Homo sapiens: one gene and its partners. The protein of the gene in region 7 purifies or fractionates together with the protein of the main gene of each other region. This does not show direct contact. Each region holds a gene or a part of one and is shown on either strand. Other genes may lie near its edges. The genes, in order: MAPKAP1, ZNG1A, FLG, RGL3, SERPINA12, PRIM1 and GALNT9.

The links.
Region 1: the proteins of GALNT9 (region 7) and MAPKAP1 purify together in Homo sapiens (co-immunoprecipitation; one large-scale study listed by IntAct). This does not show direct contact.
Region 2: the proteins of GALNT9 (region 7) and ZNG1A purify together in Homo sapiens (affinity purification with mass spectrometry; one large-scale study listed by BioGRID and IntAct). This does not show direct contact.
Region 3: the proteins of GALNT9 (region 7) and FLG purify together in Homo sapiens (affinity purification with mass spectrometry; one large-scale study listed by BioGRID and IntAct). This does not show direct contact.
Region 4: the proteins of GALNT9 (region 7) and RGL3 purify together in Homo sapiens (affinity purification with mass spectrometry; one large-scale study listed by BioGRID and IntAct). This does not show direct contact.
Region 5: the proteins of GALNT9 (region 7) and SERPINA12 purify together in Homo sapiens (affinity purification with mass spectrometry; one large-scale study listed by BioGRID and IntAct). This does not show direct contact.
Region 6: the proteins of GALNT9 (region 7) and PRIM1 purify together in Homo sapiens (affinity purification with mass spectrometry; one large-scale study listed by BioGRID and IntAct). This does not show direct contact.

The regions. Positions count from the first base shown.
Region 1 is NC_000009.12:125,672,709-125,676,208, reverse strand, and holds part of MAPKAP1 (target of rapamycin complex 2 subunit MAPKAP1), read left to right. Parts: intron 1-911; exon of another isoform or gene 912-1,055; intron 1,056-3,500. UniProt on the Homo sapiens protein: Component of the mechanistic target of rapamycin complex 2 (mTORC2), which transduces signals from growth factors to pathways involved in proliferation, cytoskeletal organization, lipogenesis and anabolic output.
Region 2 is NC_000009.12:169,057-172,556, forward strand, and holds part of ZNG1A (zinc-regulated GTPase metalloprotein activator 1A), read right to left. Parts: exon of another isoform or gene 3,433-3,500; intron 3,117-3,432; coding exon 3,025-3,116; intron 1-3,024. UniProt on the Homo sapiens protein: Zinc chaperone that directly transfers zinc cofactor to target metalloproteins, thereby activating them.
Region 3 is NC_000001.11:152,308,240-152,311,739, reverse strand, and holds part of FLG (filaggrin), read left to right. Parts: coding exon 1-3,500.
Region 4 is NC_000019.10:11,398,815-11,402,314, forward strand, and holds part of RGL3 (ral guanine nucleotide dissociation stimulator-like 3), read right to left. Parts: intron 3,434-3,500; coding exon 3,401-3,433; intron 3,319-3,400; coding exon 3,197-3,318; intron 1,484-3,196; coding exon 1,388-1,483; intron 1,295-1,387; coding exon 1,226-1,294; intron 1,156-1,225; coding exon of another isoform or gene 1,138-1,155; coding exon 1,041-1,137; intron 1-1,040.
Region 5 is NC_000014.9:94,499,470-94,502,969, reverse strand, and holds part of SERPINA12 (serpin A12 precursor), read left to right. Parts: intron 1-3,500. UniProt on the Homo sapiens protein: Adipokine that modulates insulin action by specifically inhibiting its target protease KLK7 in white adipose tissues.
Region 6 is NC_000012.12:56,745,824-56,749,323, reverse strand, and holds part of PRIM1 (DNA primase small subunit), read left to right. Parts: intron 1-2,291; coding exon 2,292-2,398; intron 2,399-2,469; coding exon 2,470-2,543; intron 2,544-3,142; coding exon 3,143-3,279; intron 3,280-3,500. UniProt on the Homo sapiens protein: Catalytic subunit of the DNA primase complex and component of the DNA polymerase alpha complex (also known as the alpha DNA polymerase-primase complex - primosome/replisome) which play an essential role in the initiation of DNA synthesis.
Region 7 is NC_000012.12:132,195,872-132,198,230, forward strand, and holds the end of GALNT9 (polypeptide N-acetylgalactosaminyltransferase 9), read right to left. Parts: intron 2,089-2,359; coding exon 1,921-2,088; intron 1,383-1,920; coding exon 1,236-1,382; 3' UTR 501-1,235; downstream 1-500. UniProt on the Homo sapiens protein: Catalyzes the initial reaction in O-linked oligosaccharide biosynthesis, the transfer of an N-acetyl-D-galactosamine residue to a serine or threonine residue on the protein receptor. Does not glycosylate apomucin or SDC3.

The DNA of each region.
Region 1 (3,500 bases), on a different chromosome or scaffold from region 7:
TTGGTAAATATTACCAAATTACCGTCTAAAAAGTCCCAGTTTTCATTCCTTCATATTGTGCATGAGAGTGCCCATTTCTCTGAACCCTTGCCAGAGTTAGATTTTTAAAAATCTTTTTGATCTGTGCACAACTGATCAGAGAGTACAATTTGTTTTTATCCGTGATATGTATGTCCTTGTCTTGGAAATCAAACATAGCTTCAAATGATAATTTGCTGCTCTTTGGGAGATTTTTTAAAATATTCTTTTGGGTTTTGAAAAGTAGTCTTGTTAGAATAAGTTGAATAGTGTTCCAAGGGGACAATTTTGAAGGGCACGTTGAAGAGATGCTCTTGTATTACGAAAAAAAGACAATCCTTTATTTATAATCACACACTTACACCTGGCACATTCATATATGACTTATCTCTACAACAAAATTGAATAGTCCTTGGAAGTTAGACAGCAACATTTATTGAACTCCTGCCATGTATAACAGCCTTTGTTGCCAGAAGGAATATGGTGTTATGAACCCTGTCCTTGTGGAACTTATAGTCTAAGTCTTTAAGTACATGTAATTGGAGGTAAAAAGTGACATACACAATAATATGTTTTCTGGGGCAGTCCTGTGGGAGTTCCATATCAGAGCTGGTAGGGAATAAATATTTTTTGAATGAATCATACAGATTCCTTAATGTATGAAGTCATAGTGTCCTAATAGAGAAGATATCTGCTGCTGTTGAGGCATTTGTTCTGGGAGGATAAAGCTGGGAAGTTGGTATGTGCCTTCAGAAGTGTTTGCCCATTCCTCTTATCTTCAGAAGTGATCTATTTCCCTAGAATAGATTTTATTGAGGGCACTTCAGTATACTTTTGTCACTTTGCCTTTTGCCATTTGACTTTTTGGTGCTAGAACACCTATTAAATATCTGATCACTTCTCGGCCTTTTGGCTAAGATCAAGTGTATTAAATGTGTGACTTCTCATTAAAGCCCTTGTTTTTGCAAGGGAGAACTATTCAGTATGAATTTGAAAGCACCTGCCTCTCTACTGGTGACTAGCTGCCTTCCTTTCATGCCAGGAAGATGGCTTATTGTGATTGCTGTAGAAGGATGTTTGCAGCTCTGATCTGTGATACTATGCTTCCACAAATACTCTCATTTATAAATAAATGTGTGGTGTATACATTTTTTATGGTTATAGAGAAGTTTGTATTTTTACAAGTGAAATTTAAATGCTCATTGTTAATTTCATATTTTTTTCTGATCAATATCCTTAAAATGGTAGATTGACACTAATACTTCAGGGACCAGATATCTCAGAAATTTGATGCTTAAAGGAATCCCATGGTATTAGGAGATGTACTCGGTCTGTATTAGGGTATTAACTTTTTGATTCAGGGATACCTTACTCACCTTTGCATTTCCCATTAGCCTCAGAGTAAAATAAGTACTCAAGGAATATATTAAGAGGAAAAAAGTGAAGATTAATGTAATTTGCTTGATTAGAGATGCTCCTCAGTTAAATTTCTTTTTAATCTCAGTATCTTTATTTTAAGACCCACTTTAAGACACATCAGCAGAATGATGTGTTTCCAGACAACAATTTTTAAAACCTTAGTTAACTGTAAGGATTTATTAGCTAGATTTCCTCTCTATGTTCCATTTCTAGAAGAAACAGATTACAAGAAAATCTGGTGTTATAAGTCCTTCTGAAAGTAAGTATCTTCTAGGACTGTTCCTGGAAACATAGTCAATCCAGCTTTCATATTCCTTGTACTTCTCAACAATTTTGCAGGGGCAGGGAAGTCACTCAGATGACTTGCAGTGTCCTCTATCACAAAGGAAGCACAGACTTATTTTATGTGCCACGAACTTACTAAGACAGATGGGATATTGACATATTTTAGGACTACTTTAAGCAAGAATTGATCATTGAAATTATTGATTTTTTATCATTATTATTAATAGCTAACATTTATTTAATTACATGCCATGTATTTTTTTGAGCATTTTACCTGCATTATCTCCTGAAGCTTCCATTTTATAAATGAAGGAAAAAAAAAAGGGAGGCTCAAAAAGGTAAAGTATTTTGACTGAGATCTTATAGCTAACGAGTAATAGGGCCAGGGTTTGAACCCTTTCTGTCTCTAGGGCCTAGTACCTAACCGTTGTCCTGCAATATTTTCTTTGTTGAGTATTTTCACTTAACTGAGAGGGTGCTATCTTGTTACTAGAACAAATATTATTACAGTGTTTTTTGTATGTTTTGTTTTGTTTTGTTTTTAGAAGACAGGGTCTCACTATGTCACCCAGGCTGGAGTGCAATGGTGCAATCATAGCTCACTGCAGCCTTGAATGCTGGGGCTCAAGTGATCCCCCCACTTCAGCCTCATGAGTAGCTATGACTACAGGCATGTCCCACCATGCTCAGCTAATTAAAAAATAATAATTATTATATATATATATTTTTGTAGAGATAGAGTTTTGATTGTGTTGCCCATGTTGGTCTTGAACTCCTGGACTCAAGCAGTCCTCCTGCCTCGGCCCCCCAAAGGGTTGAGAGTACAGGTGTGAATCACTGTGCCCGGCCTCATTACAGTTTTAACAGGACTGAGGAAGCAGTTTTTATAATTAAGTTTCTAAAATAAGAAGTTGATTGTATAGTAGGTAATTTTGATTATAAATTTTATTTTAAAAACACAGGCCAGGCATGGTGGCTCACGCCTGTAATCACAGCACTTTGGGAGGCCAAGGCGGGCGGATCAACTGAGGTCGGGAGTTTGAGACCAGCCTGACCAACATGGAGAAACCCCATTTCTACTAAAAATACAAAATTAGCTGGGCATGGTGGCGCATCCCTGTAATCCCAGCTACGCGGGAGGCTGAGGCCGGAGAATCTTGAACCTGGGAGGTGGAGGTTGCAGTGAGCCAAGATCACGCCACTGCACTCCAGCCTGGGCAACAAGCGCGATACCCTGTCTCAGAAAAAACACAACAACAACAACAACAAAAACACAATACTATCTTGACAGGAAAATATATTCATTGAGCAACATTAATTTGGTGGTACATCATTTTTATAAAACCCCTAGTAACTCTGAAAGCATTGTCTGTGCCCTTTTAAACACTTCACAATCATATGACAGGAGGGGAAATGTAAACTGATGAAATAGAGTTTTGTACTTTAGCACATCATTTGAGGAAAATACAACTTGTTCCCCCATGACCTTATAAAGTAATGAGAAGATTGCATGATAGTGAAGGGAGAAAGAAAGGAAAATATATTGTTTTAACAGTAGTTATGTGCTTCGAGTGGCCTGACTTGTAAGGAGTTGCTGTGATTTGTTTTGCAAGAGTGCAAGCCTTCCTTTCTGATTCTATAGAGATCTCATTGACTAGAGCTGCAGCCCCTAGTGCTTATAAGGATTTCCTTTCAGCTTAGACTAAATCCTTTTAAGCTCCACAGAACAGGGATAAATGTTGATTTTCAAGGTGGCATTTTACTACACTGAATGTGTC
Region 2 (3,500 bases), on a different chromosome or scaffold from region 7:
TAGCTACCATAGACAGTGATTCCTCTGATGGATCTGGGCAAAGTAAATTGAAAACCTTCTGGAAAGGATTCATCATTCTAGATGCCATTAAGAACATTTGTGATTCATGGGAGATCAAAGTATCAACATGAATAGGAGTTTGAAAGATGATTCCAGCCCTCACAGATGACTTTGAGGGATTCCAGACTTCAATGGAGGAAATAACTGCCGATGTGGTGGAAACAGTAAGAGAACTAGAATTAGAAGGGGAGTCTGAAGATGTGACTCAATTCCTGCAATCTCATAAGAAAACTTTAACTAATGAGAAGTTGTTTCTTATGGACGGGAAAAGAACGTGGTTTCTTGAGATGGAATCTACTCCTGGTGAAGATGCTATGAACACTGTCAAAATGACAACAAAGGATTTAAAATATGACAGAAGCTTAATTGATAAAGCAGGGTTTGAGAGGACTGACTCCAATTTTGAAAGAAGTCATACTGTGGGTAAAATGCTATCAAATAGCATCATGTGCTATAGAGACATCTTTTATGAAAGGGAGAGTCAACTAATGCAGCAAACTTCATTATTATCTTATGAAATTGCGATAGCCACCCCAACCTTCAGTAACTACTACCCTGATTGGTCAGCACCCATCAACATCGTGGCAAGACCCTCTACCAGCAAAAAGACTATGACTTGCTGAAAGCTGAGATGATTGTTAGCATTTTTTAGCAATAAATATTTTTAATTAAGGTATGTATGTTTTTTAGACAATTCTATTACACATTTTATAGACTACAGTATAGTATAAACACAGCTTTTTTTTTTTTTTTTTTTTTTTTTTAAGAAATGGGGTCTCATGCTGTCATCCAGGCTGGAGTGCAGTGGTGCAATCATGACTCACTGCAGCCTCAAACTCCTGAGCTCAAGTGATCCTCCCAAGTAGCTGGGACTACAGGCCTGTGACATCACACCCGGCCAAAACGCATAACTTTTATATGCAATGGGAAACAAAAAAATGTGTGTGACTCACTCTATTGTGATATTCAGTTTACTGCAGTGATATGGAACTAAGCCCACAATATCCCTGCGGTATGGCTGTACAGTATAAGAATCACCTGAAGGGCTTATTAAAAACAGCTTGCTTGACCCCCTCCCTTAGAGATTCCGATTCAGTAGATCTGGGTTGGTCAAGAATTTGCCTTTCTAACAAGCTCCCAGCTGAGGCTGAGGCTGCCATTCAACATACTACCAAGTAGCACTGGCATAGAGAGATCCCTGGAATAAAATGTACCTACTTGTGTGTGTGTGTGTATGAATGTGTGTGTGTGTGTGTGTGTGCGCATGTGCATGTGCGTGTGTGTGTGTGTGTACAGTCTTGCTCTGTTGCCTGGGCTGGAGTGCAGTGGCGTGATCTCGGCTCACCGCAACCTCCGCCTCCCAGCTTTCAAGCGATTCTCCTGCCTTAGCCTCCTGAGTAGCTGGGATTATGGGGTGCGCCACATCGCCTGGCTAGTTTTTGAATTTTCAGTAGAGACTGGATTTCACCATGTTGGCTAGGCTGGTCTTGAACTCCTGGCCTCAAGGGATCCACCTGCCTCAGCCTCCCAAAGTGCTGGGATTACAGGCATGAGCCACCATGCCCAGCCCCTACTTGTATATCACAAAAGTGAGATGATTACTTTTCAACTTTCTTCTTTGTATTTTTTAGGTATTTAAATTTTTTTACAATGAATGTTCCATCTTTACCCAAACAATAAAATCTTTATTGTAAAGAAAGTTAGAAGCAAGAAACATTAACATTTTTTATAACTACAATTTGTATAAAAGCTTTCTCTGTGATCTTTAGTTTTTCTTTCTTCCTCTGAAAAGCTGAATCGTGTTTAATTAAACTCTCAAAAGTATCAAGTTTTTGTCTATAAAATGGCAAAACTGGCTATGATGAAATAAACTGATATTTGCTATTTCTAATAAAAGCATACAATATATTTTTCTTTCTTACCAGATTCAAATATTTAACACCAACATATTAGTCCAAGTCCTATCATCAGTCAGATTTATCAGAAAGGTATGAAAACCCATGCCTACTATAAGGACCAAAATAGCCTAATTCAATACTACTTTGAAAACATGGGGATGATGTTATTATGTAATTGTTTTAAGTACAATAACCACTGATCACATTTGAACTCTCAGGATACTTCAATATTTCTTTTGGACAACTATGACCTGTTGAGTAAATTACCCCCAAATACTTTAATATAGTTTTACAAATCGCCCCAATGCCAGAGACCCAGATCAAAAAAAAAAATAATGGTATGGGTCAGATTCACAGAATAAGCACTAACTTTTATGCAAAATGAAAATAAAGATTTTATCTAAAAGTTATTTGGGGAAAATAAGCAGACTTTATCAAGAATTAGAGCTTGGTAAGAAGGTAACAGAAACCCATTGTTAGAAACAGGTTGACTCTGTGTAGCTTTCCATAGTAGAGTTCAGAGTTTCCTGTCATGATTCCCTTATCAATGCAGTGTAATAACTACTTACACAGCACTTACATTGTATTAGGTATTATAAGTAATCTACAGATGATTTAAAGTATATGGGAGGATGTGCATAGCTTATAGGCAAATACTACACCATTTTATGTAAGGGACTTGAACATTAATAGATTTTGGTATCCTCAGAGATTCCGGAACTAATACCCCATGGATGCCAAGGGACAACTGTACTTAGAGGTAGAACGTCTCTGCTCTTCCTACATGTCCTTATTTTTAACAACTTCTGTTCTTACAAATAATCCTAAGTCAATCAATAAAACTTCAAATTCTATTAACAGCTTAAAAGTACCAAGAAATACTCTGTTCATTCATTCAACTGCCAAAGAAAATGACAACCGAGTACTTTTCCTCTTTTAAACCAAAAAAAGTTTTTGGTTTAATACTAACAAAAGCTTTAATCCTCATTTTAGATATTCCTCTAATACATCTATTTACAATATATCACAGAACTATATTCTGGTTATTAATAATCTCACTTCTTACCAGGGTCTGCTAATCCAGTGGTCTCTAACAGTATGTAATCAAATTTCCCCTTCTTTTGCATCAAATTCTCAATAGCTCTAAGGCCACTGTCCCTGGAGAATACCAAAACATAATTTACAGTTAATTACCTAAATATTTTGAAGTGATTATTATAAACACTTTAAAATATATTCAACAACCCGAGACAAAAGTACCCTTGGGAATGTGAAAATTTAACTCACTTCTAACCTTCTAACAAAATGTCCGTCCCATATTTACCAGTGAGAAAACAATAGATGCATATATATAATAGGTAAAAAGAAATCATATACATAATACTTTATCAAAATTAAAAGCAGAGGAAACTTTATCTGACCAAGTATCTTTTTATAGCTTTATGAAATTTTTAAAAACCAACATACAAAATAATGATAAAATGTATTAACTATAGTAGTTTAATATAATAGCTAAAGAGACACTGATATTAAACACCATAT
Region 3 (3,500 bases), on a different chromosome or scaffold from region 7:
TCCGCGCAGACAAGCTTCATCTGCAGTCAGAGACAGTGGACACTGGGGGTCCAGTGGTAGTCAGGCCAGTGATAGTGAGGGACATTCAGAGGAGTCAGACACACAGTCAGTGTCAGGCCATGGACAGGATGGGCCCCATCAGCAGAGCCACCAAGAGTCCGCACGTGACTGGTCAGGGGGAAGGTCTGGACGTTCAGGGTCTTTCATCTACCAGGTGAGCACTCATGAACAGTCTGAGTCTGCCCATGGGCGGACCAGGACCAGCACTGGACGAAGACAAGGATCCCACCACGAGCAGGCACGAGACAGCTCCAGGCACTCAGCGTCCCAAGAGGGTCAGGACACCATTCGTGCACACCCGGGGTCAAGGAGAGGAGGAAGGCAGGGATCCCACCATGAGCAATCGGTAGATAGATCTGGACACTCAGGGTCCCATCACAGCCACACCACATCCCAGGGAAGGTCTGATGCCTCCCATGGGCAGTCAGGATCCAGAAGTGCAAGCAGACAAACTCGTAAGGACAAACAATCAGGAGACGGCTCCAGGCACTCAGGGTCACGTCACCATGAAGCTGCCTCTTGGGCTGACAGCTCTAGACACTCACAGGTGGGACAGGAACAATCATCGGGGTCCAGGACAAGCAGGCACCAGGGATCCAGTGTTAGCCAGGACAGTGACAGTGAGAGACACTCAGACGACTCCGAGAGGTTGTCTGGGTCTGCTTCCAGAAACCATCATGGATCTTCTCGGGAGCAGTCAAGAGATGGCTCCAGACACCCTGGGTTCCATCAAGAAGACAGAGCCAGTCACGGGCACTCTGCAGACAGCTCCAGACAATCAGGCACTCATCACACAGAGTCTTCCTCTCATGGACAGGCTGTGTCATCCCATGAACAGGCAAGATCAAGTCCAGGAGAAAGACATGGATCCCGCCACCAGCAGTCAGCAGACAGCTCCAGACACTCAGGCATTGGGCACAGACAAGCTTCATCTGCAGTCAGAGACAGTGGACACCGAGGGTCCAGTGGTAGTCAGGTCACTAACAGTGAGGGACATTCAGAAGACTCAGACACACAGTCAGTGTCAGCCCACGGACAAGCTGGGCCCCATCAGCAGAGCCACAAAGAGTCCGCACGTGGCCAGTCAGGGGAAAGCTCTGGACGTTCAAGGTCTTTCCTCTACCAGGTGAGCTCTCATGAACAGTCTGAGTCCACACACGGACAGACTGCACCCAGCACTGGAGGAAGACAAGGATCCCGCCATGAGCAGGCACGAAACAGCTCTAGGCACTCAGCATCCCAAGACGGTCAGGACACCATTCGTGGACACCCGGGGTCAAGCAGAGGAGGAAGGCAGGGATCCTACCACGAGCAATCAGTAGATAGGTCTGGACACTCAGGGTACCATCACAGCCACACCACACCCCAGGGAAGGTCTGATGCCTCCCATGGGCAGTCAGGACCCAGAAGTGCAAGCAGGCAAACAAGAAATGAGGAACAATCAGGAGACGGCTCCAGGCACTCAGGGTCACGTCACCATGAACCTTCCACTCGGGCCGGCAGCTCTAGACACTCACAGGTGGGCCAGGGAGAATCAGCGGGGTCCAAGACAAGCAGGCGCCAGGGATCCAGTGTTAGTCAGGACAGGGACAGTGAGGGACACTCAGAAGACTCTGAGAGGCGGTCTGAGTCGGCTTCCAGAAACCATTATGGATCTGCTCGGGAGCAGTCAAGACATGGCTCCAGGAACCCCAGGTCCCATCAAGAAGATAGAGCCAGTCATGGGCACTCTGCAGAGAGCTCCAGACAATCAGGCACTCGTCATGCAGAGACTTCCTCTGGTGGACAGGCTGCATCATCCCAGGAACAGGCAAGGTCAAGTCCAGGAGAAAGACATGGATCCCGCCACCAGCAGTCAGCAGACAGCTCCACAGACTCAGGCACTGGGCGCAGACAAGATTCATCTGTAGTCGGAGACAGTGGAAACCGAGGGTCCAGTGGTAGCCAGGCCAGTGACAGCGAGGGACACTCAGAAGAGTCAGACACACAGTCAGTGTCAGCCCACGGACAGGCTGGGCCCCATCAGCAGAGCCACCAAGAGTCCACACGTGGCCAGTCAGGGGAAAGGTCTGGACGTTCAGGGTCTTTCCTCTACCAGGTGAGCACTCATGAACAGTCTGAGTCCGCCCATGGACGCACAGGGCCCAGCACTGGAGGAAGACAAAGATCCCGCCACGAGCAGGCACGAGACAGCTCCAGGCACTCAGCGTCCCAAGAGGGTCAGGACACCATTCGTGGACACCCAGGGTCAAGCAGAGGAGGAAGGCAGGGATCCCACTATGAGCAATCGGTAGATAGTTCTGGACACTCAGGGTCTCATCACAGCCACACCACGTCCCAGGAAAGGTCTGATGTCTCCCGTGGGCAGTCAGGATCCAGAAGTGTCAGCAGACAAACACGTAATGAGAAACAATCAGGAGACGGCTCCAGGCACTCAGGGTCGCGTCACCATGAAGCTTCCTCTCGGGCCGACAGCTCTAGACACTCGCAGGTGGGCCAGGGACAATCATCAGGGCCCAGGACAAGCAGGAACCAGGGATCCAGTGTTAGCCAGGACAGTGACAGTCAGGGACACTCAGAAGACTCTGAGAGGTGGTCTGGGTCTGCTTCCAGAAACCATCTTGGATCTGCTTGGGAGCAGTCAAGAGATGGCTCCAGACACCCTGGGTCCCATCACGAAGACAGAGCCGGTCACGGGCACTCTGCAGACAGCTCCAGACAATCAGGCACTCGTCACACAGAGTCTTCCTCTCGTGGACAGGCTGCGTCATCCCATGAACAGGCAAGATCAAGTGCAGGAGAAAGACATGGATCCCACCACCAGCTCCAGTCAGCAGACAGCTCCAGACACTCAGGCATTGGGCATGGACAAGCTTCATCTGCAGTCAGAGACAGTGGACACCGAGGGTACAGTGGTAGTCAGGCCAGTGACAGTGAGGGACATTCAGAAGACTCAGACACACAGTCAGTGTCAGCACAGGGAAAAGCTGGGCCCCATCAGCAGAGCCACAAAGAGTCCGCACGTGGCCAGTCAGGGGAAAGCTCTGGACGTTCAGGGTCTTTCCTCTACCAGGTGAGCACTCATGAACAGTCTGAGTCCACCCATGGACAGTCTGCGCCCAGCACTGGAGGAAGACAAGGATCCCATTATGATCAGGCACAAGACAGCTCCAGGCACTCAGCATCCCAAGAGGGTCAGGACACCATTCGTGGACACCCGGGGCCAAGCAGAGGAGGAAGACAGGGGTCCCACCAAGAGCAATCGGTAGATAGGTCTGGACACTCAGGGTCTCATCACAGCCACACCACATCCCAGGGAAGGTCTGATGCCTCCCGTGGGCAGTCAGGATCCAGAAGTGCAAGCAGAAAAACATATGACAAGGAACAATCAGGAGATGGCTCTAGGCACTCAGGGTCGCATCATCATGAAGCTTCCTCTT
Region 4 (3,500 bases), on a different chromosome or scaffold from region 7:
TGTGCGCGACCATACCCAGCTAATTTTTCTATTTTCAGTAGAGACAGGGTTTCACCACGTTGGCCAGGATGGTCTCGATCTCTTGACCTCGTGATCCGCCCACCTCGGCCTCCCAGAGTGCTGGGATTACAGGCGTGAGCCACCGTGCCCAGTCTCTTTTTCTTCATAAACAGGATCTCGCTCTATCATGCAGGCTAGAGTGCCGTGGCATGATCGTAGCTCACTGCAGCCTCAAACTCAAGCGATCCTTCCACCTCAGCCTGCTGAGTAGCTGGGACTACACCCAGCTAATTTTTTTGACTTTTAATAGAAATAGGGTCTCACTATGTTGCCCAGGCTGGTCTTGAACTCCCGGCCTCAAGCAATCCTCCCACTTTGGCTTCCCAAAGTGCCGGGATCACAGGCAATAGCCACCGTGTCTGCCATGGTATGCAGATTCTTAGGGACATACATGTCCTCAAAAAAGTGTAGGCTGGGTGCGGTGGCTCACACCTGTAATCCCAGCACTTTGGGAGGCCGAGGTGAGTGCATTGTTTGAGCTCAGGAGTTCGAAACCCACCTGGGCAACATGGCGAAACCTCATCTCTACTAAATAAAAAAAATAGCAGGGCATGGTGGTGCACACCTGTGGTCCTAGCTACTTGGGAGGCTGAGGTGGAAGGATTGCTTGAGCCTGGGGGAGGGGTGGAAGTTGCGGTGAGCTGAGATTGCACCGCTGCACTTCAGCCTGGGTGACAGAGCAAGAAGACCCTGTTTCAAATAAAAAGGGGTGTGATGTGATTGCACCCTAGATGACCCATGGGCAAGCAGTTACACAGGTCCAAATCTGAGCACGAGTCGGATTTATGAGTGATCACCCAAACAGGGCCGTGCAGATGCATGCAATCCCCTGGATGGATACCCCGGGCGCTCAGTGTGCCTCCTGTATACACTCCTGGCCCCACAATCCTGTGTGTACACATGTGCATGCACACACACGTGCACACACACAGAGCCTGGGTGCCCGCAGGCCCGCATGCACACACAAGCCGTCTTGGTACCTTGGTGCTGGGGCCCTGGGGCCCTGGAGAGGCCGGGGGACTGCCAGCAGGAGCATCTCTGCTTCTAGGACTTGAGGGGGGTGACCCTGGGGACACACTGGGGGAGATGCAGAGGCTGAGGTGGGGTGGCTGTGCTGACTCCTGATCCCATGATCCCCAGTCCCATCACCAAGCAGAATGCTCACCTGGAGGTGGGGGATGAGGGGTCCCCGGGACTCCCACTAGGTGATGAGCTTTTCTCTCGGGCAAGCTTCCTAAGGATGGGGACAGGGGATGAGGCTAAGGCAGGAGCAGCCCTTGCTGATATCTGCCCACATCACCGCCCCTACACACACCCCGAGACTCACGCACTGAGACGCTTGGTGAGGCTGATCCGCCGTCGGATGCGTGGGGAGCTGGGGCAGGAGGCAGCTGGTGGCTCAATGACCCGGGAGAGCCGGTAGCTGAGGGGTCAATATGTGGATGAGGTGGTGGGGGCAGGAAATACAGGGGATGGAGAGATAAGAGTTGGAATCAGTTGGGAGGTGGGTTTGGGGTGTAAGGGGGAGCAGCCAGAGGTGGCACCCCACATGCCAGGGTCAGGGTGGTAAATGAGGGTCATTGAGCATCAAGGTCTTATCAGAGATGGGACAGGATGGCTGGTCAGGAGGTCACAAAGAGATTCACAGGGTGGCACTAAGGAATCAAATTGGGTCAGGATTAAAGTCAGGGTCAGGACTGGGTGCAGTGGCTCACGCCTGTAATCCTAGCACTTTGGGAGGCTGAGGCGAGAGGATTGCTTCGGGTCAAGAGTTCGAAACCAGCCTGGCCAATATAGTGAAACCCCGTCTCTACTAAAAATACAAAAAAAATTAGCCAGGTGTGGTAGCTCGCGCCTGTAATTGCGGCTACCGGGGAGGCTGAGGCAGTAGAATTGCTTGAACCTGGGAGGCGGGGGCTACAGTGAGCCGAGATCACTCCACTGCACTCCAGCCTGGGAAACAGAGCCAGACTCTGTCTCAAAAATAAATAAATAAATAAATAAATAAATAAATAAATAAATAAATAAAATAAAGTCAGGGTCAGACTGGGGTCAGGTCACCATTGGGGTCAATGGTTAGGGTCACAGTTATATAGAAAGAAAGGACACAGTTGTCATAGTCAAGCTGGACAGTCAAACATAAAAGTTGGAGTCAGTTACTCAGAACTGAGGGTCAAGGGTTGGGGTCAGAGAGTCAGATGAGGGGTCATGAATAAGGTCATGGGTCAGATAGGACCAAAGATGGGGAAGTCAACAGATGGGACAGTTGAGTTGAATGGCCAGCTGAATGCTAAAGTTGAGGTCAGAAAATCAGATGGGGTTGAAATTGAGGTCAGAGGTCAATTGTGACTATTTTTTTTTTTTTTTTTTTGAGACAGGGTCTCACTCTGTCACCTAGACTGGAACTGCAGTGGCGTGATTTTGGCTCACTCCAACCTCTGCCTCCCAGGCTCCAGCAATCCTCCCACCTCAGCCTCCCAAGTAGTTGGGACCAACGGCACTCAACACCACATTCAGCTAATTTTTTTTTTTTTTTTTTGAGACGGAGTCTCGCTCTGTTGCCCAGGCTGGAGTGCAGTGGCACCATCTCGGCTCCCTGCAAGCTCTGCCTCCCGGGTTCACGCCATTCTCCTGCCTCAGCCTCCCAAGTAGCTGGGACTACAGGCGCCTGCCACTACACCTGGCTAATTTTTTTTTTGTATTTTTAGTAGAGACGGGGTTTCACTCTGTTAGCCAGGCTGGTCTCAAACTCCTTACCTCATGTGATTCACCCGCCTCGGCCTCCCAAAGTGCTGGGATTACAGGTGTGAGCCACCGTGCCCAGCCACGTTCAGCTAATTTTTGTATTTTTTTGTAGATATGGGGTTTCGCCATGTTGCCCAGGCTGGTCTCGAAATCCTGGGCTCAAGTGATCCACCCACCTTGGCCTCCCAAGTGCTGGGATTACACGAGTAAACCACCAGGCCCAGTCTATTTGATTCGACTGGAGATACTGCAAGGTCACAGGTTGTAGTGGGGGATCAGGGCTCAAGAGGGGGTCTTGGGAGGAGCTGGAGGTGTGTATGGAGTGGGTGGAATCCAGTTGGTGACCCAGGCTCAGCTGGGGTGGGGCTGGGACAGGCTACAGGGTGGTCACCTCTGCTCCTCGGTGAGCTGGTTCTGGGCATGCAGGGCAGCCAGGATGGGCGGGTGGGGGCTCAGGGTGTAGCTCTGACAGCGCCTCTGCAGCTGCTGGATGCGGGCCAGGATCTCCCACTCCTGGAGGACGAGCCTCTAAGACCCTACCCCTGCCCCACCCCCACCCTCAGGCACCACCACACCCACTGTAGCCTCCACTCACCTTCCTCCTCTTCTCAAAGTTAATGAGATCCCCCTGGGGGCAAAGTGTGTCTGAATTGCAGCACCCAGGGTCAAGGGTCAAGGGTCAAGGTCAGGGGCTG
Region 5 (3,500 bases), on a different chromosome or scaffold from region 7:
CCCAAGTGCTGCACATTCCAAGAGGCGCTCAGAAAAGGTTCTGAGGAAAGGTGGCATCTCAGAGGGCCTGGGGTTCCTGGGGCAGGAAGGGGTTTCTGGGGCAGGAAGGGGTGTCTGGTGCATGCAGCCAAGTGTAGGAAGCATCTCCCCGATGAGGAGGCAACACACTGGTTGCCTGAAGCTCGCTCTGTTGGTTCTCAAGACATGGGAACTTGTCCAAAGCATTCTAAACTTTTTGGTCTCATTGGCTTGAGGAAGGATATTACATCAACTCTTTCTAGCCAGTCAGTTTCATCCCAGGGAAGAGAGGTAGGGTGGTCAACTATCAGGAGAGGAGTGACCTGCCTGGGGGCAGGGGGAGTTCTCTCTAAAGAAAACTGTGGTTCCAAACCACTGTGCACTGAGTAGACCTTCTGTAGCCTGTGTGTGTTATCCCTGTTTAGGTATCATTTCTTCAAACTGTGGTGATAACGGGGGAAGCGCTTTGTAAAATTAGAAATATTATTATTGTTGAGTCTGCTGTCACAGCTCACTGTTGCTTCAGTTGGCTGATCGGGACGGTGTGGGAGGTGGAAGCAGTGCCCTCCCACAGGGAAACCCCTTCTCGTGTAGACTTAAGCCGCCTATGCTACCTGTGCGGACGCTTCCCATCTGGTTTGGATCTGTCTTTAGGATGAATGACTTCCGGGTCAGTGAGGCACTATTTTATCTAGTCATAAGAGGAGGAAATTATTTTTCCAAATTAATAGGGAACATGGGAGCAGGATGATCAGAGAATTGAAATACTGACTATAGCTTCATGTGTCCCATGTGTACCCCATGGGGTTCGGTTTCTATCTTGTTCTTTTTTTTTTCTTGGTTTTGTTTTAGTTTTATCTCTTTATTTATTTTGAGTCACAGCCAAACACACACAGATACACACACACACACACACACACACACACATTCCAAACTAAAAGCCAACAAACAATTGCTCAACTCAGGAGAGCAACCTATCAATTGATTGGGAAATAACCAGTTGCTCAGCTATTTTAATTGATGGAATTAAAAAATTAGCCTACTCAGGCATCTAACCCAACTGACAAATTTGGGTCAGTTTAAAGCCCGTGATGACAGATGGAAAGGCCCGGAATGGGGCTGGTGTTGGCTGTTTGGGGGAGAAAGGCCAGATGTTCGCACTCAGGGAGCCAGGGCAGGAGGCCCGGTGGAGACTGCTGTGACACAGGCATGCTGAGGTGGGAGGGTGCTGAGACCCCACCAGGCCAGGGTGTGGGCTGTGTCCCTTGGGGCGGGGGTGGGGGGGCGGGGAGGTGGTGGCAGTGCCACCTGATCAGCAGTATCTCATGGGGGAAGAAACCAAATTATCACCACCTCCCCCTCATTTAATAGATGAAGATACTGAAAGCCTGAAGGGTGAAGAGACTTGCATCAAAACACCTAACAAACACACAAGTTGGGGAGGACCGCTATCCAGACCTGGAATTCCATAATCCGTTCTTGTTTCTGAAACTTGACAATGTTTAGGGATCAGTGACTGAACATCACTGTAAAGCTGTGCGTGCCACAGAGTGTTCCCAGGATGGTGCTTTCTGTGGGTTCCTTCCCTGCTCCAGCCCTGCCCTGCCCGGCCTCCTCCAAGGCTCCTGCCAGGCTGCTGGTTTCACCGCTGCTGAGAATGTTTTCTCAGCTCAAGGGACATGTCTTAACTTCTCCACTCCTAGGCACTGGGAACTTGCGCCCACTCTGAATAGCAGAAGCTTCTATTTTTAATCCAGGCAGCCTTTGTAAACAGTGCAGCCCCCTAAACCCTGAAATGGACTCCTTCCTATTTTCTTTTGTTTATCTGAAGCATTCTTGGGAATTTTACTAATTTCTCTTCTACAATCTGTTTTCAGCAGCCCATAGAGCCCTTGTTCATCACCAGCTGTTATTAAGTTTTACCAAGAAGTGGTTTTTGGGGGTAGAAGGTGCTTAGAGAGCACCCAGGTTCAGAGAGGGAAGTGCTTTCTGGAATGTCACACAGCTACGAAGGCATGAGAGCAGAGCACAGAACTCCTGCCTACTTAGTAGTCCTGGCGTTTTAAAAAATATGTATCTGCCCGTATTTGTGAGGATGTTTTTGGCTTCAAGGAAGTGACCATGTAACTCAACGTCACTGGGGGTCCAGAGGCAAGGTGGGCTCTGGGTTCAGCTTTTTCCATGGACCCAGCCCCGGTTTCTCTTAAGAGCCCTTGGATGCATCCTCTTTGTGCTATGGCTTTGTCTTAGAGTCACTTCCCTCACGGGGCAAAGTTGCTGTTAGTCCCTGCCTGCCGTGCCTTCCTGCCCAGGACATCCCAGGAAAGAGACAGGCCAGCACCCCAACATTCCAACAAACAGTCTTGAAATCCTCCCTCATTGCACCCCTTAAGCCACATGCCCCTCCCTAAACAAGGATCAGGGCAGAAATTCCCGCCTGCACTGATTGGATTAGGTCTGGCTCCTGAACCAACCAGTAGCAGGAGAGTTGAGATGCCCCTGCACCAATCAGGCCCTCCCTTGGAGCTGGGAGGGGCTTGTGTCCCTGAGGCACATGGGCTGCCTGAGAGAAGAGTATATTATTGAAAAGAAGAAAAAGAAAGAGAAGATGAGGAGAAGAGGATAAGAGGAGAAGAAGGCGAGGAGGGGAAGAGGAGAAGAAAGAAGAAGAGGATCTATTGGGAAGCTGGGAGAATGGATGCTGAAGGAGCAATGAGCAGTATTCACTAGAATTTTCCAATACTATACTACAAACTCCTTGAAGACCTTTGTTGTGATCAAGGCTCTATCCACAGTGCTTGGCGTAGAAGGATTTGGACATGAAGAACCTGGGAACTGGGGACACTCCTAGGTACAGGCCCTGCCTGGTGTTCATTCATCTGCTTATTCAGCCAACCAGAAAGAGCCAGGCATGGGAGTTTAGCTGTGCAGACCCCGTTGGTGGCTGACCCAGTTCCCTTTTGCTGGTGCTGCTGTGAGGGTTGCCTGCTGACAGCTCACAACTGCCCTCCCCTCTCCAGAAAATTGTCCTTGGCTGATAAGACCTAACTGACCCAGTTATGCACCATGACCTGCATCCAGAGGACAGATCACAGCCACCAACTGACCGATTCTATCCAAAAGGCCAGCCTGGAGAGCCCTCCCACTGTGGACCAGGCCAAGGCTAGATGTCACCTTGGCTCCTTCCCTTTTCCATCCCACTTCCCTCACTTCCCTACAGGGAAGACAACTGCCTCAATACATAACATGCACCTAAATCCCCATCTCAGGTTCTGCTTCTAGGGAACCCAATCTAAGACAACCATGAAAAACCTTTACTGTGGACAGGCTGACTATTACCCACAGATTACAGACATGTAAGATATAAATTACAGGAAGAAAGCAGACTAAATGATATAACAGATGACCAAGCAAAGAAATCTGCCTTCGTTTTACATATAAATGGGTGTGACCATCACTGACAGTAGTATGTCCAACCAGAG
Region 6 (3,500 bases), about 75 Mb from region 7:
AAAAAATCTGCTACCAGGCTGGGCCGGTGGTTCACACCTGTAACTCTAGCACTTTGAGAGGCTGAGGCGAGCAGATAACTTGAGGTCAGGAGTTCAAGACCAGCCTGGCCAACATGGTAAAACTCTGTCTCTACCAAAAAATACAAAAACAGCCGGGCACGGTGGCACATGCCTACAGTCCCAGCTACTCAGGAGGCTGAGGCAGGAGAATTGCTTGAACCCGGTAGGTGGAGGTTGCAGTGGGTCAAGATCACGCCACTGCACTCCAGCCTGGGCGACAGAGTGAGACCCTGTCTAAAAAAAATTCTGCTACCCTTCCCCCTCATTTTTTGCTACCCAGAAGCAACTACTTTCTTTCTTTCTTTTGTTGAGACAAGTCTAGCTCTCTTGCCCAGGCTGGAGTGCAGTGGCTAGTCTCAGCTCACTGCAATTTCTGCCTCCCGGTTTCAAGTGATTCTCCCACCTCAGCTTCCCGGGTAGCTGGGATTATAGGCGCATACCACCACACTTGTCTAATTTTTGTGTTTTTTAGTAGAGACGGGGTTTTGCCATGTTGGCCAGGCTGGTCACGAACTCCTGACCTCAAGTGATCCACCCGCCTTGGCCTCCCAAAATGCTGGGATTACAAGCATGAGCTACCACACCCAGACCCAGAAGCAACCACTTTCTTTTAGCTAAAGCTTTTTTTTTTTTTTTTGAGACAGAGTCTCGCTCTGTCATCCAGGCTGGAGTGCAGTGGCATGATCTCGGCTCACTGCAGCCTCCGCCTCCCGGGTTCAAGCGATTCTCCTGCCTCACCCTCCCGAGTAGCTGGGATTACAGGTGTGTGCCACCACGCCTGGCTAATTTTTTGTATTTTTAGTAGAGACGGGGTTTCACCATGTTAGCCAGGTTGGTCTCGATCTCCTGACCTCGTGATCTGCCCGCCTCAGCCTCCCAAAGTGCTGAGATTACAGTCGTGAGCCACTGCGCCCAGCCCTGTTCAGATTATTTAGAGAGAAATCTTCTAGCTTCCTGCCTGAGTTGGTAGTGGAAGAGTACAGAAGTGGGTGGAAAGGGCTGGGTCTTAACATTCCACATATAAATGTCTAATTATTCCCCTAATATCAATTTGTAATATCAATACAACACACTCTTCAATTGTACTTGTTGTCCAAGTCCAGGGACCTTCTGTTTTATGCTCTCTGGAAAATAATTCAGGTGTCTTCTGCCAGGGAAATGAAAGAGCAGTCACCTAGCTCTGCAAGCTAAGTGTACGAATCTGGGTAGCTAACTGCTTCTTAACTATGCTTTGAACCAATCCTCCTTTTTTTTTTCCTTCAGTCAAGGGTGGCCTTGAAAAATCTTCCTGTTTTTCATCTCAGCTTCACTAAACACGCACTTACTCATTCCAACAATACCTGGTATCACCTATCCCTGAGCCTTTTGGGGGTTCTGAGGTATAAATTGGGTTGCGCCTCTTATCTTTCCTTACTGACAGCCTAAGATTTAGTTTTATGAATCTCCTCAGTAATCACTCCCTTCTGACTTACAGTTATAAAAACTTATGGTGGAATTAACCTCTCAGGTTCTTTTTTTTGAGACAGAGTCTCGCTCTGTCACCCAGGCTGGAGTGCAGTGGCGTGATCTTGACTCACAGCAACTTCCACCTCCCGGGTTCAATGATACTCCTGCTTCAGCTTCCCAAGTAGCTGGGACTACAGGCATATGCCATCACACCCGGCTATTTTTTGTATCTTTAGTAGGGAGACAGTTTCACCATATTGGCCAGGCTGGTTTCAAACTCCTGACCTCAAGTGATCTGCCCGCCTCAGCCTCTCAAAGTGCTGGGATTACAGGCATGAGCCACTGTGCCCAGCTTCTCATAGCCTCTTTATAATAAAGTCTCAATTCAAACTAATTGGGGAGATCTTTTTGAATTATTGAAAAATTTTTAAATACTTCTATGTATGGTAACAAGTAAAGGTTCTTAAAACACCTTGCAATAGGCCATTATTTGTATACGTTCCCTTGTCAGAAAACTAAAAACAGCTTTATTATTATCCTTATTGACCAACAAACATTTATGATGGATATGTATTCATTAAACCCTGCTTTAAGTTGGTGAAAGTTAAGACTCTCATCAATAGTGTATGTGTAAGATCCAAAATAATGAACTTTCACTGTCATAAAGTTGGCATTATATAGTCTCTTTATTTCTGTTTGGCAACTTTTTCCATATGTGTAGAAAATAAGCAGATTTAGCAGTGTGGCAGCTCTTATAGAAACTGATCAATATTTTGTATCTGTAGCCCAATCAACACAATACAGTGAAGCTGGGAGCTTTCCAGGCTCAGGAAAAAGAACTGGTATTTGACATTGACATGACAGACTATGACGATGTGAGGAGATGTTGTAGGTGAGCACTGTGTGTCTTGCTGTTAGGGTGGGTGGTATCACTGACAATGAGTAATGATGACTCTGCTTTAGTTCTGCAGACATATGTCCTAAGTGCTGGACCCTCATGACAATGGCCATACGCATCATTGACAGAGCATTGAAGGGCAAGTATCAGCAGTTTCTGAATGGGGTCAAGTGTAAGAATCGGTTTTCCTCTGACTACTATTAACTATTAGTCTCTGTATTTTGTGATCAAATCTCATTAATTTGTGTGTGTGTGTGTGTGTGTGTGTGTGTGTGTGTGTGTGTGTGTGTGTGACGAGTCTCACTCTGTCAGCCAGGCTGGAGTGCAGTGGTACAATGTCGGCTCACTGCAACCTCTGCCTCCTGGGTTCAAGTGATTCTCCTGCCTCAGCCTCCTGAGTAGCTGGGACTACAGGCGCACGCCACCACGCCCAGTTAATTTTTGTATTTTTAGTAGAGGCAGCGTTTCACCATGTTGGTCAGGCTGGTCTCGAACTCCTGACCTCGTGATCTGCCCACCTCGGCCTCCCAGAGTGCTGGGATTACAGGCGTGAGCTACCACACCTGGCCTAATAAAATAGTTTTTTAAAAAAGAAAGAAATTCCCAGCAGAGAGACCAGGATGGGTAAAGAGATGAAGCAAGAACATGGGGAGCACAGGAAACAACAAGTAATTTAATATACATTAATTAAGGAGTTTATAGATTTGTTTTAAAACCTATTATTTCTCTCTTCCTCAGAGGACTTTGGATTTAAGCATCGTCTCTGGGTATATTCTGGAAGGAGAGGTGTTCATTGTTGGGTCTGTGATGAATCAGTTAGAAAACTGTCTTCTGCAGTACGTTCTGGGATAGTTGAGTATTTGAGCCTTGTAAAGGTAAGATCCTCTTAATTCTAATTTGCATTGCTTTAGTTTCTAGATGTTACCAAGCCTGATATGTTTACTGTCAAAGAAAATGAAACTATCTTTTTTTTTTTTTTTTGAGATGGACTCTCACTCTGTTGCCCAGGCTGGACTGCAATGGCATGATCTTGGCTCACTGCAAGCTCTGCTTCCTGGGTCCAAGCAATTCTCCTGCCTCAGCCTCCCGAGTAGCT
Region 7 (2,359 bases):
GTTTGTTATGTGGGTATATAGCTTGATGCTGAGGTTTTGGCTTCTAACGATCCCATCACCCAGGGAGTGAACGCAGCTCCCAACAGGTGGTTTTCCAGCCCTCGTCCTCGTCCTCCTCCCCCTCCCACCTGCCCCTCTGGAGTCCCTGGCGTCTGCTATTCCCTCTCTGCGTCATGTGCATGCAGCATTCAGCTCCCATGGATAAGTGAGAACACGTGGTTTTGGTTTTCTGTTCGGGTTGAGTTCTCAGGCTGACGGCCTCCAGCTGCATGTGTGGCTGCAGGGGACGTGCTCTCCTCCATTTTCCCGGCTGCATCGAGTTCATGGTCTGTCTGCACACGTGAGGCCACCTGCCAGGCCACATCCCAGCACAGGCGTCATCCAGTGATTTCCTCATCGGCCAGAGTCTGCGTCTGCAGCTTTGTGAGCCACGCGGCCATGGCCTGACTCTGTGCCGAGAGCCCCGCAGCGGTGGCCACAGACAATAGTAAGCAACTGGGTGTGGCTGGGCGCCAATAAAACTGTATTTATTAAAACAGGCAAGGGGCTGGGCTGCGGCAGGGCCCAGGTGCCTGGGAAAGAGGTGGGACCGGGCCCCAACCCCCAGCTCGGCTCCCAGGAAGACACACACAGTGCTGCTGCCTAATCCTCTCTTTATTTGGTCTCTGCTGAAGCAGTCGTGCCAGCCTCCTAGACACGGCCTCAGGTTTGTCGCTGTCCATGTCCTCCAGCACCCCTCTTACCAGACCACAAGGAGCTGCATTATGATGTGTGACTTAGGTCTTGGTTGGAGGGCTGAGCGGCCGCAAGTGCTGGGGGAGGCTGCTTGGAGCATGGGAGGCCTGCGGGTGGAAGACACCAGGGTGCAGCCTGGTGCATGGTCCGGGGCTTGGCCTCCCTATGGGGCGTGGGGGGCTGTGGTACATGCAGAGGCGGCGGCTGTCCCAGCAGCCTGGCCAGGAGATACCGTGGAGAAGGCACGTGTTTGAGTTGGCATCACTGTCCCCAGACGCCCTCCCTCGGGTAGAGCCGCCTGTCCTAGGAGAAGCTGTACTCCAGATGCAGTGGGTGACACCCTGGTCACTCAGCCACACCCCGGCCCCTCAGCCTCTGCTGTCCTGGCCGCACATAGAGCCCTGTCCTGCTGTGTCTGCCGGGCACACCCCGGTCACTCAGCCACACTGGCTCGGCCCAGCGCCTTCCCGAGGTCTGTGGGGGTCCGGGCGGAGGTGGGGTCAGTGCCGTGCGTGTTTGATCCAGTTTCTGATCATCCACTTCTGCCCCGAGCACCTCTGTACCACCAGCCGGAGCCCAAAGTTGGCATCTTTGGACATCTCCACCTCCAGGCAGCGGCCCGTGGCCCGGCTCACAATGGGGCCACTCTGTGGGGACAGGCACATCAAGTCAGCCAGGTGCAGGCGTCCTTGTTCCCCCTCCCCCCACCTCAGGGAGGCTGCTTCGTGCTCTCAGCCCTCGTGCTCATTCTTGGGGCAGCTTGAATGGAAAGCCAGCATCACAGCAGCACCCAGGGGGGCCGGGAAGGGGCTGACTTCAGTGGAGCTTCGAGGATTTCCCATCTTTCCTGCAGGGCTAGCGGCCCAGGTTGGAATCATACCTCATCCCCTTCCTAAATCCTCCCTCTACCCTGGGCACCTGAGGCTGGAAGAGGCAGATGCAGGGCTATGATCAGACTGTCCAGCCCGACCCCTCTCTGGCTGTGTGACCCTGACCAGTCACCTGCCCTCTCTGTGAGCGTCGGGGCCCATAAGGGAACAGCTGATCCAAGGCCCGGTCCCCTGACCACCCCCTGCCGCACTCCAGCTCCCACCCAATGGGCTGGCTCTAGTGGCAGAGGCACCCAGGGGTCCCAGCAGCCCTGCCCCGCCCCAACCCCACGGCCCCCCTTCCCCAGAGGCTGACCTGGGTGAAGTCCCACAGCCGCTGTGTTGGCCGCGCCACATCCTCACACTTCTTCAGGGTGGGCATGCGGCCCGTGCCGTCATCCACCAGACACTTGGAGTCAGGCAAGAAGGCTGTGGAGCCCAGAGGCCCCAGCTGCAGCAGTCCATCAGCGCTGTACCGCACCAGCTGGGGACAGGACCACCGGGACTGTGTGTGAGCAGCGCCCAGGCTCTCCCCAGTGAGCACTGACAGGCCGTGCGAGCTGCCTTGAGCTGCAAACGGGGCCCTGCGCGGCTGCCTTGGAGCCTCCCACCCCGGGGACGCTGTTGCGGGCGGGAGAGGACCGCCGGGCAGGGCCCACGTGGGGATGCGGGCTGGACGGCGCCCAAATGCTCCGCAGGGCCAGGCTCCCGGCTTGCACAGCTGGCTGGTCTTCCGCCTGGACAGACGTCATGAA